2 linked regions of the Homo sapiens genome follow. The protein of the gene in region 1 interacts with the protein of each later gene in a biochemical or structural test. Each region holds a gene or a part of one and is shown on either strand. Other genes may lie near its edges. The genes, in order: PRKAG2 and SLC31A1.

Region 1 (9,319 bases):
TCCTGAGTAACTGGGACTACAGGCATGTGCCACCACACCCATCTAATTTATTTATTTTTTTTGTAGACATGAGGTTTTACCATGTTGCCCAAAGCTGGTCCACATGAGCTGGGCTCGAGTGACCCGCCCACCTTGACCTCTCAAAGTGCTGGGATTACAGGCGTGAGCCATCACACCCATCCCGGGAAAACTCTTGACAAGTGTAAAGTGTCCTATAAATGTATGGCTTATACATATACATATACATATACATATACATCATATACATATACATATACATCATATACATATACATCATATACATATACATCATATACATATACATATACATCATATACATATACATATACATCATATACATATACATATACATCATATACATATACATATACATCATATACATATACATCATATACATATACATATACATCATATACATATACATATACATCATATACATATACATCATATACATATACATATACATCATATACATATACATATATATCATATACATATACATATACATCATATACATATACATATACATCATATACATATACATCATATACATATACATATACATCATATACATATACATATACATATACATCATATACATATACATCATATACATATACATATATACATATACATCATATACATATACATATACATCATATACATATACATCATATACATATACATATACATCATATACATATACATATACATACATATACATCATATACATATACATCATATACATATACTTATACATATACATCATATACATATACATATACATCATATACATATACATATACATCAGACACCTAGTTTTTTAAAAAAATATATAGAGAGAAACAAGAACATGCCATTGTCCAGTGGTTGGGCCATTTTGTGTGGCAGCCACATGCTGAGGCTGGTTCCAAATGCAGGGTGTGAGTGATGTGTGGGCGTGCCCGTGGGGTGGTGCCAGCGATAGTGTGAGACAAAATCCAGAACCAGAAAAAGGACTGTGAGGCCAGGCCGTGAACGTTGAAAAACCATGTTATAGTTGGGGTCCTCGGACCACCCTTCTTGCTGCCAGTGGTGACTTTGGCAGCTTTTCATAACGTTCTTGGCATGAGCCAGCCCACCGCGAAAGTAGTATTCATTCAGTTATTCCACAGTGGCTGAGGGTGACCACGTGCCCAGGCTCTGGTTAGGGTGAGATCTGGGGAAGATCTGCCCAAGTCCTCACAGGGCTTGCAGTTGCTTTGGGTACCAGGGAGGTCCCCTCATCTGCCTAATGGTCATTACCTATGGATCATTGTGCCAGGCTAGGTGGCAGTTATAACCTCGCTGGGAAAATGAGGCTTTCAGACAAAGGCTAGCAAATGATCCAGGGTCATACGATGGCCAGTGCAGACCACACCTGTTTCTAGAGGCAGAAGGAGCGATGACAGTGGCCTGATGTGTTTAGAGAGACTTTACACCCAGAGATGGCAGGCAGGAGTCACGTAGAAGTGGGGGTGATACTCCCACTAAGGAACCAGTGGGAGCACCCCACAGAATCGGGCGGGAGGGGATGGCTGCTTCCAGGTGAAGAGCCACGCCTCCTGGCGAAAGGGTTTGAGAGCTAGAGTCATAGGAAATGCTTTGAGACTGGATCAGGAAGGACCTGGACATAGGGTTGCCAGCTGTAGTAACTAAAAATACAAGATGCCTAGTTGAATCTAGATTTCAGGTAGACAATGAATCATGTTTTAGCATAGGTATGCGCCATACAATATTTGGGAAATACTAAAAAGTATCCATTGTTGATGTGAAATCCCAGATTAATGGGGGCGTCCTGTATTTGATCTGGCAATGCTGCCTTGAAGACCAGGCCTAAGGCGTGAGGACCCCCTCCTGAAGGCGTGAAGAAGCTGCGGTGGACGCTGTGGATAGCCTCCTCCTGGTGCCTGGGGCCCAGCCCACCCTCACCTGCAGCCTTGGTGGACTGCCTCTTACTCGTGTCTCCCTCCCCACCTGAAGGAATCCTCTCAGACCCTGGCAGCTTGCTCAGCCTAGTGCAGGAACCCCTGGAAGTGCTGGGATTATGCCCTGAGGGGCAACCCTCAACCCAGGAGGGGTCCAGTTGGTGGCCAATGGCCCAGCCGCCCTGCTGCTCAGTGGGAAGTTCTGACCTGGGTTCTGCAGGATGCCTCAGGGGATCCCTAGCAGGGTGGGGATCCACAGTGTAACCCACTCGTTAATGCACCTTACTGGCCCTTCTGGCCAGTTCCTGCCTCAGTTTCCCCATTCCCTTGTCTGCACTCCCTGGGATAAACTCCTGAACCTAAGTTCCTGTCTGAGTGTCTTTTCTGGGGGGACCTGAACTAAGAAGCCATTAAAGGTAAAGAAAACAGCATTCCATGGGAATCAGCCTGGAAAAGTGTACAGAGTGGAGTGATGGGAAACGGGCTGGTGTCAAGGAAACCAACTCAAGTACTTTGGCAAAAGCCCCCCCCCAGGGTAAGGGTCCGAGGGCCTGAACTGCAGCTGTGATGAGAGAATGCAGAAGGGCAGACGTGGGACGTGAGAAGGCCAGCCTAGTGGATGGCAAGGGGTTGAGGTGGCAGGAACTGATGTGGAGGTATTTGGGATAAGGGGCCGGTTCTTGGGGGAAATGATGAGTCTGGTCATAGCCCGGGTGTGTCTCAGCAGAGGGCAGCACGTCCATGGGGAATCACATTTGCTTCCTCACCCCAGCCTCAGAGGACTGTGGTGTGCAGGGACTGCCACTGCCAAGGACATCTTGGATTCTGAGGAGTAATAACTCTTGAAAGACACTGTGGCCCTGGCTGGCCTGTGACTGGGGTCATTTGGTGGCCTCCTCGGACCCCTAGTGCCCAAGCAGCTTGTCTCTTCATTGAATTGGATTGAGTCGTTTTGGGGACCTCAGCCTCCAGCCCATATCATAAACAGAACCGTGGCCTAGGGTGTTGGAGGCAATTGTTGCAAACCTCCTCTCTCGGGCTCTGATGATTTTGAATGTCCCCACTGCCCGCTTCCTGTCAACAGCCCATCTAGGCTTTGGGACACCAGGAAGGAAGAATCCATTTTAGGGGACAGCCTAGGGCCAGTGGGTAGTGGACGGTGGTGGAGACCTAGAACTACTAAGTAATTTATCAATTGAATTCGGTTGATGGCTGTGTACTGGGGAAGGGAACGTGGCCCTTGGACCTAACGAAGGTGTCGCCTTGCTTGGCTTCAGCCTTTCTTGGGCATTTTGGGTCACCTTTATGGGCACAGCTCCAGGGTCTTGGAGGAGGAGGGGGAGGATGCAATGGAGAGGAAGGGGAAGGACTGACGGCACATTCTATCCTGAGGCCATGCTGGCCTTTCAAAGTAGCAAAGGGCCGTAGAGGTCAGAGTCCTGGCCTGTTGGCATCCCGCCTTGGCTCCCTGCTCTGAGCCTCCATGCCTCTTGTAAGGCATGGCTGATTATGAAGGTGATGGGAATGGTTTTAGGAAGTAACTCACTGGAAGCGTAGCTGTGCGTGGTGTTCTGCCGAGACTTTGGTAGCAAGCGTGCTCTTTCTCCCTTATGTCGGTCTAAGAAAAAGCAGCTTCCCTATTAGTGCTAAAGTTCATAGACCCCATAGACATGCTTTAATCAAGGCTGGCTGCCATGTCGTGTGTCTCTGGAACTGTTTCAAGCCAATGACAGAGCTGGAGACCCAGGGAGAGGGAAGACGTCAGAGAGATGGACCCAAGGCAGAAGTCTTTGGGGACACTGAGGCAGGCTGGAGGAGTTCAGATGGTTGCTGCTGAGTGGGGCATTTCTGTCAGAATGTACATGTCGCTGGCCCTCTGGGGAGAGGTGCTCCAGAAAGCCTGCACAGTCGCTGGAGACAAACTAAAAGTAGAGCCAGGGAGCTGGGCAGTCACAACGTTTGCAGAGATGGGGCTGGGCTTGGGCGGGCCTGTTGCCAGCGGTGCCTCCCCCCGCCGCGTGGCCTCAAGGGAAGCCCCGCGCTGCGAGAAGGCCACGCACCCTCCGAGCTGGTGATGGCCTGGGACCTTTGCACCCAGCTCCTGCCCCATAGCCTCTATCCGGCTGGAATGAGCCAGTTTGGGAACTCCAGGATGAGGGTGGGAAGGGGAGCCCCGTCCTGCCCCGGGGCTGGAGGATCGAACCGTGACAGTGCTTTGTGCCCCTCACACCACTGAAACGCTCCGGATGGAAGCCTCCGCAAAGGGAAGGGGGATGCTGTGTGGCACAGTGGACGTGTCAGCTTTGACCTTGGCCAGTTTGTACCATCCTGAGCAAGATTTGCTGGATTAGGGTTTAGGGCAATGTTTAACAAAGTGTGGTTCATGGACTAGCTTATGTAGAAGCTCCCAGTGTTTGTTTAGAATATAAAATTCTGCTTCGTAGCCCAGACTTACTGAATCAGAATGCCTGAGGGTGGGACCCATGAGTTTGCATTTTTCTTAAGTTCTCCGGTGATTCTTGTACCTACTGGGGCTTAAAAACAACTGGGTACTATTAATAGCTTCCCTGGTGTAATACTGTTCCATTTCTTCTGCCCCCATGAGTTATTCCTCTGTCTGCCTGCCTGCCTGCCTGCCTGCCTGCCTGCCTGCCTGCCTGCCTATCTATCTATCTATCTATCTATCTATCTATCTATCTATCTATCATCTGCACCTTTTCAGCTGTCATTGAGAAGAGATATCCTTGACTTTTGACTATTCAACAAAGGCAATTCAACATTTGGCTTCCAAATAAAGATGAATGCCCAAACCAGCCTGTAGCCAGAGCTGCCTGTGTGGGCCAGCCCGTTAGGCCACGCTGCAAGCTTTCTTGACTCAGCCCTTCAGTGGCTTCATGCATCTTAGATGCCCTGCCGTAAGCTCCAATAGGGCCCAGAGTATGCTATGGGAACCTTCAGTAGTCAAGCTTCTTGGTGATGGGGTCCTCAGACTGGCCTGTGGCTCCAGGGTTTTTGATGAAGCTTGGTTGCCGCTCTGCAGCACGCTGGGTGTGAGAGGGCTGATCAGCGAGGGTCGTCCTCAGTGGGGCACGGCACATTGGCCCAATGCCGCTTGAGCACGGCCCAGTGCTGGTCCTGGAGGGAACGGGCAGCTAGACAGTGATGCGTGATCACTTCCTCAAAGACTCTACCACACAGAGGGCGCAGGGACACCCACAGAGCAGCTCACATGGGGGAATAGTGCGGAGCCTGCACAAACCCATGGGCCTGCAGAGTCACATGCTCAGTGCCTTGCGGGAGTCACCTTGGAGCTGCCTCGTCCTCTTATCCCTACTTCACAAATGCCCAGCTGAGAAAAAGCCTGTTCATCATTACATGGTAGATGACAGGGTTAATTACAGTGGAGGTGAAATATGCATCTCTGCCCTCATCTAGCCCCCGCTGCCCTATTCGCGCTTGGTCCTGGTACCTCTTTGTGGAGGGTTCCAAGATTCTTATATAAACGAGGCTCTACATACTGCAGAGGAGCAGCCTACTGATGAATGCAAAGAGTTAAATCCTGGATCATGATTTCCCAGCTCGAGTACTGAATTAACATAAACAGAAGCAGCAGCCAGCAGAGTTGGTGGGTTCAATCGATATTGCATCTTTTCACATGTCACAAACTTGTTAGGAGTCTCAGTGCATTGCTAGTGTCTTTTCCTGCCTCTTTTCTTTGAACTGCCCCCCCCAATAAAACCTCTCAGAACAATATTGCTAGTTTGCACTCAGGGTTTGCAATTTGGACTGTGCTGAACACTAGACTGGCGAAAGAAATCATTTGGAAGCACTTTTTATTTGCCAACGCCTCTTCATCTACTCAGACTTCGCTTACGTAATTTGTAAATCAGTTTGTATCTTCTAAAACCTTCAGGCAAATACATGTGCTCTTAAATATTCCTGTTTCTTGGCTGTTTATTTTCTTTTGCTCTCCCTGTTTTCCTATAAGAGCTGATTTTGGTGTATTCAGCTCATGGCCAGTGTCTTTCTGTTTCTAGGCACCTTTTTACATTTATGGGGGCTGCTAAGGTTACCGAGTAGAGCCACAGACACTGACAGGAGCCGAGTGAGAATGTGGCTCACCCGTTCTCCTCCCTCCGCCCTCCCTTCGGCCAAAATGGGACCAATGAACGTGATCACCGATGAAGCACCAGCTGTCTGCCGTCCTTTCAGGACGGTGAACCAGCCCATCCTGATAACCCCACAGTTCTGTCAACGTCGTTTAAAATGCGCAACAAACAAAGGCCGATGGGCAGCTGAGCTGTGACGTTGAAACAGAGTGGTGACTTTGCTTGGTTCTTTAACCGTGACTCGCTCTGAGATGAGCAGAGGGGCCACCTGAGAGTTCAGCTGCGTCCTTCGGGCTTAACCATACGGAGTTCTTAGAAGCCCCCACTGTTACTCATTGCATGGCTTATGCCCCCAGACCAGAGGAAGGGGTTAGCTATTAACGAGCTGAGCTTCCCCAGTAGAAGAAGGTGATTTGGTGGAACTGTATTTTAGCCCTGCCTTGGAATGGTTAATTGGAATCTCACTCATCTCTTTCTTCCACTACCTACTTTGAAAATAATTTAATCCCTGTCCTTTACTTCCTGTTGACAGGAAGCCCTCTCTGCCAACCCATGGCTGGTCACGGACCAATCGGCTATCACCAGGCTTTGGGGCGTCTGCCAGGGCCTCTGTGTTTTGATATACTCTGACCTGGCAGTGAAGCTGCTGATGAATGCACGACAAAGACCAGTTTGCTCCGTAACCCCAGGCTCCCAGCGTCTTTTCCATGAGCCAAAGGCCTGGTCCTGGAGGGGGGTGCCCTGCAGCTCTGCTGGCCTTCTTCCAGGGGAGTTCATTGCTGGGGGTGGCCCTGCAGTGACCTCCACTGTGCTGGGGAGGGGAAGAAGAAGGATGCAACAGGGTGAGGGGAGAATTTGAGAAAATAGGATGCAAATTCTCCACTTGTGAATAAAGAAATAGAGAGCCATTGCTAAGAACTATGTTTACGCAGGGTTAGTGCTGGGACCAGAAACCAGTCAACTCGTTTCTGTGTGCTTTCCAGGGACTGGGCTGGGTGTCGAGGACACAAAGATGAACAGTGCGATGGAATTGGATTCTCCAAAAAAAAGGTCGAAGTCCCACACCCTCTGCACCCCATACCTGTGAATGGGACCTTCTTTGAGATGGGGTTTTTGCAGATGTGATTAACATATAGATTAGGATGAGGCCATTAGGACCGGCCCTCATCCACTATGCCTGGAGTCCTTCTAAGAAGAGGGAAGTTGCATCCAGAGGCACAGGCAAGAAGGCCTGTGAGGGCGGAGGCAGAGATTGCAGAGCTGCTGCCACGAGCCTCGGAATATGGGCCGCTGAAGGGTGGAAGAGGCAAGGAAGGATCCTCCCGGAGGTTTCGGAGGGCGTGTGGCTCTCACAGCACCTTGATTTCAGACCTCTGGCCTCTAGAGCAATGAGAGAATCCATTCTGTTTTAAAGCCCCCAGTATGTGGTGCCGCATTATCACAGCCCAGGAACCTAATCCAACAGGGCCCTGCCCTCAAAGCACAGCGCAGCCACAGCCTCCGTCCGATAGAGCTGTAGGGCAGGGGCTTGCACTGAGGGGCTCCATGGCATGGCCTGGAGAGGTGGCCAAGGCCCCAGGAAGGGGTCCCAGCGTCCCACTGCCCACAGCACTTTGACACTCCCTTCCAAGGTCTGGGTCTTTCCTTGCGTCCCCTCCTCCCACTGCTGGAAGTTCTAGTGTGGAGGGGCTGTGAGAAAACCAACGTAACGTGACAGAGGCTGGTGTGGCAGCTCTGGGACCCAGGCCTGCTCCCTCTGTCCAGAGCACTTCCTCTTTGCCTGCTCTCCCCTCCTGGGTGGCCACCAAGACTTAGCCTCCTGGGGCCAGGGGTGCAGAGGTGTGTGCGAGGGGTGGGGGTGGGAGGACAGCTCTGTCACCTGCTCAACTTCCAGAAGACGGGCAGGCAGGCAGGCTCCACACAGCCATTTGCCTATTGGGCTAATGTGGAAACCATTTACTCAGCTCCACCCTGCTCACCACCTCAGCCATGCCAGCAGCCATGGGGTGGTGGGCTTGAAGCATACATCACCTGGGCCCCATCCTCATCTATAGCATATGTTGTAATAAGCACCCCAGAGAGCCTTCTTCCTCCATGCAACCTAGATACGCTTGATGGGGAGTTGCATTCATGGTGCTGATGACCGATCAATATTCTTGATTGTATCAGATACCATCTGGGGTGGCATGGTTTTCAACAGATTGAGCTAATATTGCTGAAGCACTTGTTATATGCCAGACGTGTGCTTTTATATGAGCCGTCTCTCTTTATCTCTAAAGTAATATGTGAAATATTAGTATTGTTATTAGTCTTATTATCCTTAATGTAGAAAAGACAGTGTAAGGTTCACAACCATTCTAGCCCAACCTGCTGAGAAAAGTCTCTGTTGTGTCTTGTCAGGTTTTTGATATCTCTGCTTGGCTATGGCCCAGATGCCCCACGAGCAGCCAAGGCCTCCCTGGGGTAGGGGATGAGGCTGGACGGTCAGGCTGAGGCTGGACGGTGGGCCCAGAGAGGGCGGCGTCTGCTGCCTCCCTTCGGTTTGCCCTGTGTGTGTCAGGTCTCCATACGCTTCACTTGGCCCCTTTCTAGATGAAGGTCATTGAAGGTTATTCTTTACCCTTCTTATCTCAAAAATAAATAACCTGTCTTCTCCACTTTCTTTTCTTTTTCTTTTTTTTTTTTTTTTGAGACAGAGTCTTGCTCTGTCACCCAAGCTGGAGTGCAGTGGTGCGATCTCCGCTCACTGCAAGCTCCGCCTCCCAGGTTCACACCATTCTCCTGCCTCAGCCTCCCGAGTAGCTGGGTCTACGGGCGCCCGCCACCACACCCAGCTAATTTTTTGTATTTTTTAATAGAGACGGGGTTTCACCGTGTTAGCCAGGATGGTCTCAATCTCCTGACCTCATGATCCGCCCGCCTTGGCCTCCCAAAGTGCTGGGATTACAGGCGTGAGCCACTGCGCCCGGCCTCTTCTCCACTTTCATAGGTTCCAGTCTCTGGTTCTTCTTTCTCAGTTTGTTGTTTTTGCTTCTTAAATAATGGAGATTAGAATGAACACTACACTCGGAATCAGGAAGCCCTGCCTGGCGCCTCTGTCACCTGTCTAGGGGCTTCTTCTCACTGAGTCATCCAGTATTGACCGCAGCCTGTTGTGTGCCAGGCACAGGGGTCTCACTGTGATCCACATGGGCCCCTCTCTCCCCTCACAAGGCTTAACCTGGGGCATGCCGTCACCCTGTC
Region 2 (9,319 bases), on another chromosome or scaffold:
CTGTAAAATGAGTGGATTAGACCTGGACTTCTACTGAGTAACTGCTGGGGATACAAAGGTAAGTAAGGCACAACCTTGATCTCAAGTTTAAAGTAAGCATTTTTGTTTATTTGTTTTGCTTAAGTATACAACTTTTAGAATACTCATAAAATATATTGTCAACCCCCAGAAGATTGGCCAGGAAGCAGCAATTTTTTTTCTCCACCCTCCACTCCCCTTACTCCCTCAGGGAAGCAGCAATTTTAATAATTATTTTCAAATTATCAGCAATTTTGCAACAGAGATGACAGTCTTTATATACGAGTATACCCATACTAATCTGTAATGATGCATGCATTTTAAAATTAGTAGTTTAAAGTTATAACCAAGTTATATCAGGCATAATGATAGGAATATGAATTAAATGCAGGTTCTAGGGGATCTATAACATTCCGTTCACTCAGTCACTGAAAGCAGACTTAGGGCCATTAGTTGGTTAACTGAAGAAGTAAGTTAAAGCAGGGAATCATACAGATAATAGTTATATGCATAACATTTTAACGAACACATAAACATTCTTTTGCCATTCTTTTAACATAAGGCCTCAGCCTTTTCTTGGAGTGTAGGACCCTGTTGCCTGTTTTTATAAGTAAAGCTTTATTAGAACACAGCCTTTCTCATTTGTTTATGTATTGTCTATGACTCCTCTTACCCTCCAAGGCAGAATTGAATATTTGTGATTGCAACAGAAACCACATGGCCTGCAACATCTAAAATGTTTACTTTTGGCCCTTTATAGAAAGAGCTTGCTAGCCCCTGGCCTACGTTATCTATGGTATTTTTAACATGGAATGAATACTTAAAGTCACTTGCAAAGCAGTCTCACTGCAGAATCTTTCTAGGTGTTTATGAAATGTCCTTCCAGACTTTTCTGTTGTCTCCCACACCTAACAGCAAGTTTATGTGTTATCTGTATGCTCACTTTTTTTTTTTTTTTTGAGACAGAGTTTCGCTCTTGTTGCCCAGGCTTGAATGCAATGGCACAATCTCGGCTCACCACAACCTCCACCTCCCGGGTTCAAGCGATTCTCCAGCCTCACCCTCCCGAGTAGCTGGGATTACAGGCATGTGCCACCATGCCCGGCTAATTTTGTATTTTTAGTAGAGACGGGGTTTCTCCATGTTGGTCAGGCTGGTCTGGAACTCCCGACCTCAGGTGATCCACCCGCCTTGGCCTCCCAAAGTGCTAGGATTAGAGGCGTGGGCCAACGCACCCGGCCTTGTGTGCTCACTTTTATCTGGTCTTTCGAAAGCATTCAGTGTGGTGTTTTAGAAATAACTACTAGAGAGTCTATGTAGTACAGTAGTTAAGTACTTGAGCTCTGGAGCCAAATTGCTTTGCCACTTATTAGTTGTATAGGCCATAGACAAGTTACTCAGTTTTTGCCTTTGTAAAACAGGCATAATGGTAGTATCCATTTCTAGGTTTCTTGTGAATATTATAGGAGTTAATTCATGTAAAGCATTTAGAACAGTGCCTGGCAGGTAGTAAGTACTCAGTGTTAATTGCTGCTGTCATTTTTCTCTTCTCATTTATACTTCATTGCTTTACATAGTATTTACGTACTTTCAGTAATAAGCACAACTGGCATAAATAGGTTTGTGAATAAACACACTGTCACCATTGATAAGCACACTTCACAGAGGGGGAACCAGAAGTGTTGTTCCCATCACATTGGAGAATAGCCTAATGGTGTGATGTCAGTTAAATTGGATAAGAGAGTTCTGTGGGATAGTTTGCTAAGAGTATAAGGCAACAGTTCACAGAAGAAAGTAATGGATTAAAATTGAAAAGGAATCCAGGACCATATTTGTCAAATACCTTGAAGGTCAAGGTGACAAGTTTGTACTTAGATTGGTAGGAAGTGGAATTTTTTATTCTAAATGGCATGATTGATGTAAAAAAGTTCAAATGGCTTAGGAGTGTATGAAGTAAAAAGTTACATTTCCCTAGCTCCATTCCATGTCAGTAGCCACTTCATTTTCTAATGGCCCCTAGAACATGAGGTTGTTGTGAAGGCATGGTAAACACCACTTGGGGCACTGGTATTAATCTGTTAAAATTTTCAATTCAGCTTTCCTTTGGATTATAATCTCAATTTTGAATTGAGAAAAATAAAGTTTCCATACTAAATGTGAATAAAATGAAATGACTGTTTTGAAAGTAGATACCATACTCATAAGAGTCTTTGATTCCTAAGTCTTTCTCTACCTCTTTTGTCCAACTTGGAAGTCTTGGTAGAGAAGGACTTAGGAATCAGAGACTCATCTCTACTGTTAATTCCTTTTTGCACCTTTCCCACCAGAAGTGCTACAAGAGAGAAAGATGATATAATAATCACTAGAAAAGCAAAGTGTTCGGCCAGGTGTGGTGGCTCCCGCCTGTAATCCCAGCTCAGGCAGATCACCTGAGGTCAGGAGTTCGAGACCAGCCTGGCCAACATGGTGAAACCCCGTGTCTGCTGAAAATACAAAAATTAGTCAGGCATGGTGGCGGGCACCTGTAGTCCCAGCTACTCAGGAGACGGAGGCACGAGAATTGCTTGAGCTCCGGAGAGGCGGAGGTTGCAGTGAGCTGAGGTCACGCCACTGTGCGCCAACCTGGGCGACAGAGTGAGACTCCATCTCAAAAAAAAAAAAAAAGAAATAAAGAAAGCAAAGTGTTTACAGTGACAAGTTGATTTCAACTAGCAGTTGTCAGTTAAGTTAGTAACAGGGCATCACCCAAATAACTGCATTTTAAAGTGGACAGGGCAGGCCTGACTGGGGAAAAGGGAGGGAAGGGGTAGGGGGTTCCTGATGCCTGTACTCCCACATGCAGCTCTTAAATCCATTTTAAAAACTTAAAAGTTTTCTGTAGTTTTGTGACTTAAGTATAACAAGTCATCAAAAGTCTGATACTTAATACATTACAATGAACAGTTTATGCCAAAAGAAATCTTATAGTAGGGCCTGGGAAGGAAATGCTTTTGAAGTTCCATTGCTTTGAGTAATATCATTTTATGATTTAGGTAACATCCCCAAGCAGAGGAGGGGCCCATCCTTAGGAATGCAAAGCCCTGCAGAGAAGGAAAGGGTTGAGAAGGGTCCACCCTACCTCTTTTCCTTTACACAATGGCCCTAGGCTTTTGTATACAACCTGCTTTTGTAGGCTTAGGACATTATGAAATACAGCATGGTAAGATGGAAGCCTGAATCTCAAAAGTAAATATGAGAAATGATTTGGAGGGAACATATAAAGAGAGCAAAATTCTAGCAACAGGTGACATATTTCCCTAGATAGAAGAGTTATTGTAGAACTATGATGAGTGTTTATATAATTTTGAAGCAGTTTACAGCATCTAGAATGTAGTCATTTAATTTATGAAATGAAAGGGAAATGGTGTAACTCATACACCCGCATCCTCTCTCCTACCTTTTCTGATGGCTTTTTATGAGTTCTCACACAACCCCTATGCATAATCTATACCTTAGTACATTTTACATTATTTTTAAATTATTTACATGTGTCCCTCTTTCACCAGAATGGGTTTCTTATGGTTAGAGTTTCATCATGGTACCTTCATTCGATAGGTATGCAATAAATAGTGAAAGAATAGTCTGAGTTCCTTGAAATTGCATAGCAAATGAGACCTAAGAGCCAGATCTAGAATGCAGATGTAGAACCTCTTTCAGTTCCTAGCCCAGTACTTTTACTGCCACACCATACAGCCTCTATCTGAGATATTGAACAATTTTTTTCTTTTTTCTTTTATTTTTTCTTGAAACAGGATCTTGCTTTGTTGCCCAGGCTGGAGTGCAGGAGCACAATCTCAGCTCACTGCAACCTCTGTCTCCCAGGCTCAAGCAATCTTCCCATCTCAGCCTTTCGAGTAGCCGGGACTACAGGCATGCACCACCACGCCCAGCTAATTTTTTGTATTTTTGATAGAGTCGGGGCTTTGCCATGTTGCCCAGGCTGGTCTCAAACTCCTGAGCTTAAGCAGTCTGCCCACCTTGGCCTCTTAGAGTGCTGGGATTACAGGCATGAGCCACCATGTCCAGCCTCATTTGCATTCTTGTACTGCATTTTCATTAAATCATTCAAGTTCCTTTTATCTTGTGTAACATATTTAATTGCATTTTCCTACTGAATAAAAAAAAGGGAACAGTTCAAATGTTTTCTAGTTTCTGTCTTATGCCATATTAATTTCCAATATTACTCATAGGCAAACCAACAACATTATTATCCAAACAGTTTAAATGCTATGTAATATAACTAAAGCAAAGTTTAGACAAGGAGGACCATTGTCTACATTTGATTATAACAATAAAGCAGTTAAAGCAATGCTTTGCCAATGTATATTTGTCTGACTAGCTAGTTTTGTTTAAATCAAACTGTGAAAGGCTGTATACTTCAAGAAACATGAAAGTGAGCCTTATGTGTGACTTAGTTCCTTTCAGAGATTAATTTTGTCATCTAATGAGCAAGCAAGCTATTATATTTCATATTTACTGTACCTTAAAATTGGAAAGTATTTAACATATTTTATTTGACCCTTACAATACTATGAGATTGGCAGCGTAGGTATTTTAATATCTGTTTTGCAAATTTTGCAAATTTTGGTGATTTGCCTAATGTCACATGGCTAGTATATGGCAAATGTGGGTCCAGAGCTCAGAGCCTTTGATGCCTCGTGCTGCATGCTTTCTCCACTCTAAGATACTATCTAGAAAACACTGAAATTGTCACATAAATCATACTAAAGCACAGTTAGCGGACTGGAAGTGCGTCAAGGCTACAAAAGGATCCTGTAAGAGGAGCATGAAAGGGTGCATCATGTGATTACATTATTCCAGGATGTGGCTTACCCAACAACAAAAGGTATCACAGAAATGGAGTAAAGTAGCTGGGAGATCCACTCCCCATTGGACTTAGGCCCTGTTATCATTACATAACTAAAAGACCTTTTCAGTTTGTTTGTTTGACATATCAAATTTGAGTTGTCCTATTAGAACCAGGCAAATAAAAGCTTTTGTAAAGGCCTTTGGAAGAATGTAGTTGTACACTTGATCTTCTTTGTACAGAAGGGTGGGAGTGGGCAAGAGAAATAGGAGCTTCTATGTTATTTGCCACCAGAACAGGATATGTAAAGCTCAGAAACCCATCCTGCTTAGCTGCTTCCCAGCAAGCCATCCGGAGAAATGGGGCTGGAGAAAGCGGTTAGTCTAGTGTTATGGAGCCTTCTATCAGAAGCAGATGTTATGGATTCACCTAACTAAAGAATGTTAGTGTCATCATTTAATAACATAAGCCTCAGTTTCCACATCTGTAAAATAAAGGAGTTGGATTTGATGATACTTTTTTTTTTCTTTTGAGTTGGAGTTTCGCTCTTGTTGCCCAGGCTGAAGTGCAATAGTGTGATCTCGGCTCATTGCAACCTCTGCCTCCTGGGTTCAAGTGATTCTCCTGCCTTAGCCTCCCTAGTATCTGGGATTACAGGCATGTGCCACCACGACCGGCTGATTTTATATTTTTAGTAGAGATGGCGTTTCTCCATGTTGGTCAGGCTGGTCTTGAACTCCTGACCTCAGGTGATCCGCCCGCCATGGCCTCCCAAAGTGCTGGGATTATAGGCGTGATCCACTGCGCCTGACTGATAATTTAATTTTTTAAATAGGAAATATATTCATATGGTTTGTAATTCAAAAAGTACACAAGGATATTCAGTGAAAAGTATTTCATTTACTCCTACCCACTTCTGACCAGCTCTCCTTAGGGACCACGGTCCTATTTTGCCTCCCAGGCTCAACCAACAACTTTGTTGTTTCCCCCCAACTCCCCTGCAGATAGTATAGGTGTATAAAAATAACATGAACATACTCTGTTTCCTTTTTAAGTTTTTTACAAATTATAGCATACAGTATATTCTGCTTTTATTTCATTTCATAATACGTCTTACAGATCATTCTATATCAATATATATGATCGTTCTCATTCTTATTCTGCTAAGTATTCCATTGTATGAAAATATGATAACTCATTTAATCAGTGCCCTATCAATGAACATTTAGGTTGTATTTTTAATATTTTGCTATTACAAACACTCCTGTTATAAGTAACTTTGTACATACACATTTCACATATGTGCCAGTTTATCTGTAGAATGAATATTTAGAAGTGGGATTACTGTGTTAAAGAATGTGGGCAGACTGATGACTGTTCTAGTTTTGATCTTCTATGAGACTTTAACTGAAAATGATTAGTGGAAAAGAAAAAGTATCATTTTCTTGGTAATATCTTAATTTTTATCTCTTACTATTCAGAACTAAGTCTTAAGTAAGAGCCAAGAATAGGTAATCTCTCCAAAATTATGTTGAATTGCAGACTTCACTAAAGTCACCTGCATCATGGTCTTGTAGATTTTTCTATTGCTTTTCAGTATAATACTATTCAAGCTATTTGCAAGGTGAATATTATAAACTCAGAACAAAAGGAGACTGTCTCCCAACTATGTTTACTAGCATTTACCAAGTAGAGGATTCAGAAGATTTGCTCTTTATTACAATTTATGTAGGGAGTGAAGATGGAAAGATGAAACAAAGAGAGCCTAACAAATATCTGCCTCTGTCTGTGTTTTACTGTCTTCCCAAATTTTTGGATGGTTATGAGGTGTGTGATAACTTTACAAAGTGTATGATACCATAACAATTACTAATCTTTTGGGGATTTGTTTGTTTGTTCGTTTGTTTGAGAGACAGAGTCTTGGTCTGTCGCCCAGGCTGGAGTGCGGTGGCGCGATCTCAGCTCACTGCAGCCTCAACCTCCCTGGCTCAGGCTATCCTCCTGCCTCAGCCTACCAAAGTAGTACAAAAGTAGATCCTATGGCCTCAGCCTATAGCTGAGACTACAGGCATGCATCTCCACGCCTGGCTACTTTTCTTGATTTTTTGAGGAGACAAGGCCTCACTATGTTGCCCGGGCTGGTCTTGAACTCCTGGACTCAAGAGATCCTTCCACCTCAGCCTCCCAAAGTTCTGGGATTATAGGCATGAGCCACTGTACCCTGCCTGTTTTGTTTTTAATTAATACATAATAATTGTACATATTTATGGGGTACAGTGTGATATTTTAATACGTATATAAATTGCATAATGATCAAACGATGGTGTTTAGCGTATACATCACCTCAAACATTTATCATTTCTTTATGGTAAGAACATTCAGAATTCTCTCTTCTAGATATTTTGAAATAGCCACAATAACATTGTTTACTATAGTCACTAGTCTTTTGGGGAAGCTAGGGACCATAAAGCAGATCAGAATTGTATCAGCCCCTCATGCTTTCTTGACTATAACCTACTAACTTTTCTTTTCTCCCCATCTCACCTCCCTCATTCTCTTTCTAGGTACAATAAGCCATTTGTGAAATTTTCCCTGTTCAATAGCAAGTTTAAGCCAGAGCCTCCATCCTTTCCATCTCTGAATTCCCTATAGCCTCTGGGGCAGAGGGTACTTCATAATACTTGTTGAGTTGAATTGAGGTAGATGTCAAAGTGATCTGACCTCACTTTGCTCCCCTCTCAAGTGCCATATCCTTCCTTTTCCCTGCTCAGCCTTGACACACCTATCAAGCCATCCCTTTGCATGCTTAATTTGGTTCAGGAAAGGACAAGAGACCAAGTAAATTATCTTGAAGAGGAGTCTGTGTCTGCCTATGTTTAAGTAAATGCGCACACACACCTATCTTTCTGGCTCCTGCTGCCATTCTTTGTGTTGCGCTTAAAAATTGGGGGCCGGGTACGGTGGCTTACACCTGTAATCCGAGCATTTTGGGAGACTGAGGCAGAAGAATCACTTAAGGGCTGGAGTTCAAGACCAGCCTGGGCAACATAGGGAGACCCCTTCTCTACAAAAAGTTTTAAAATTAGCTGAGCATAATGGTATGTACCTATGTTCCCAGCTACTCTGGAGGCTGAGGTGGGAGGATCACTTGAGCCCAGGAGGTGTAGGCCGCAGTGAGCTGTAATCATGCTACTGCACTCCAGCCGGGACAACAGAATATGATCTTGTCTCAAAAAAAAAAAAAATGGGGAAATTATTTATTTAGTTATGCATTAGTGGTAGCTGTGGAGTTAGGCACACCTGGTAGGAACAGCATTGGAATGTATAATTCAAAATACACATGTATCTTTTTATTCACATGAATTCCATTTTATGTGTATGAAATCATCAAGATCAAAGTGAATATTAGATGAATATGAACTCTAGCTTATTGGACATTTAGAAGATAGAGTTTGATTAGTGTTGATTTTTTTTTATTTTAGATTTTAAAAACTTGTCTATGGGCCATACGTTAAGTACTCATAGTATCTCTGTGGAAGAGTTCTGATAAACTCTGGGATAGGCGATAGCCAGGCCCACATGTGGACTATAACTCCTGTAAAGTTACAGATAACAGAATTATATGGTCTAACATGCAGCTCACTTAGGCAGTCCTACCTTTCCAAATGTTTTCTTCAATGCCATATTCCCAGGGAAAATTGCTGCTGGGTAGTTGAAACTAGGTGCCTCACTGGACTTCTTCCTATTATTTGGGCAACTTGTAAAAGCTTACAAACTTTCTAGAAAGTAGCCCTGAAAACAGTTCCTTCGTTATGTTTTTAGCAATACCACAGAATACATGGTTCTATGTTATAGCTTAGAATTGCTACTACTCTTACAAAATTGGAACATAGAAAAGATGGACAAAAACCTAGTATAATGTATCATTATTTCCATTTCAAGATGGCGTTTTGAACTCATCTCTTTTCCTTCCCAAAATCCTAGTGAAATTATCATAGGAATATGAAGAAGCATTATTTATAGTCAGAAAACAGGGAGAAAGAAGCCAGAAACTTTAAAACATTTCAAAGAAAATGTGATACAGATGGGAATCAAATTGAAAAAAATGACTGACCACCTGATTCAACATAGATAAAGGCCATCTCTGTCGGTAAATTTAAATGGGTTAGATTCATTTGCACACCCCTGCAAGCTCCCAAATCAAGAACAGCAGAGATGGCCAGGCACGGTGGCTTACACTGGTAATCTCAGCACTTTGGGAGGCTAAGGCGTGTGGATCACCTGAGGTCAGGAGTTTGAGACCAGCCTGGCCAACATGGTGAAACCCCATCTCTACTAAAAATTAAAAAAAAAAAAAAAAAACTAGTCAGGTGTGGTGGCGGGCACCCATAATCCCAGCCACTTGGTAGGCTGAGGCAGGACAATCACTTGAACCCAGGAGGTGGAGGTTGCAGT

The links.
Region 2: of the proteins of PRKAG2 (region 1) and SLC31A1, one has a biochemical effect on the other in vitro, tested with the Homo sapiens proteins (one study listed by BioGRID).

Annotation. Positions count from the first base shown.
Region 1 is NC_000007.14:151,865,466-151,874,784, reverse strand, and holds part of PRKAG2 (5'-AMP-activated protein kinase subunit gamma-2), read left to right. Parts: intron 1-9,319. UniProt on the Homo sapiens protein: AMP/ATP-binding subunit of AMP-activated protein kinase (AMPK), an energy sensor protein kinase that plays a key role in regulating cellular energy metabolism.
Region 2 is NC_000009.12:113,223,469-113,232,787, forward strand, and holds part of SLC31A1 (high affinity copper uptake protein 1), read left to right. Parts: intron 1-9,319.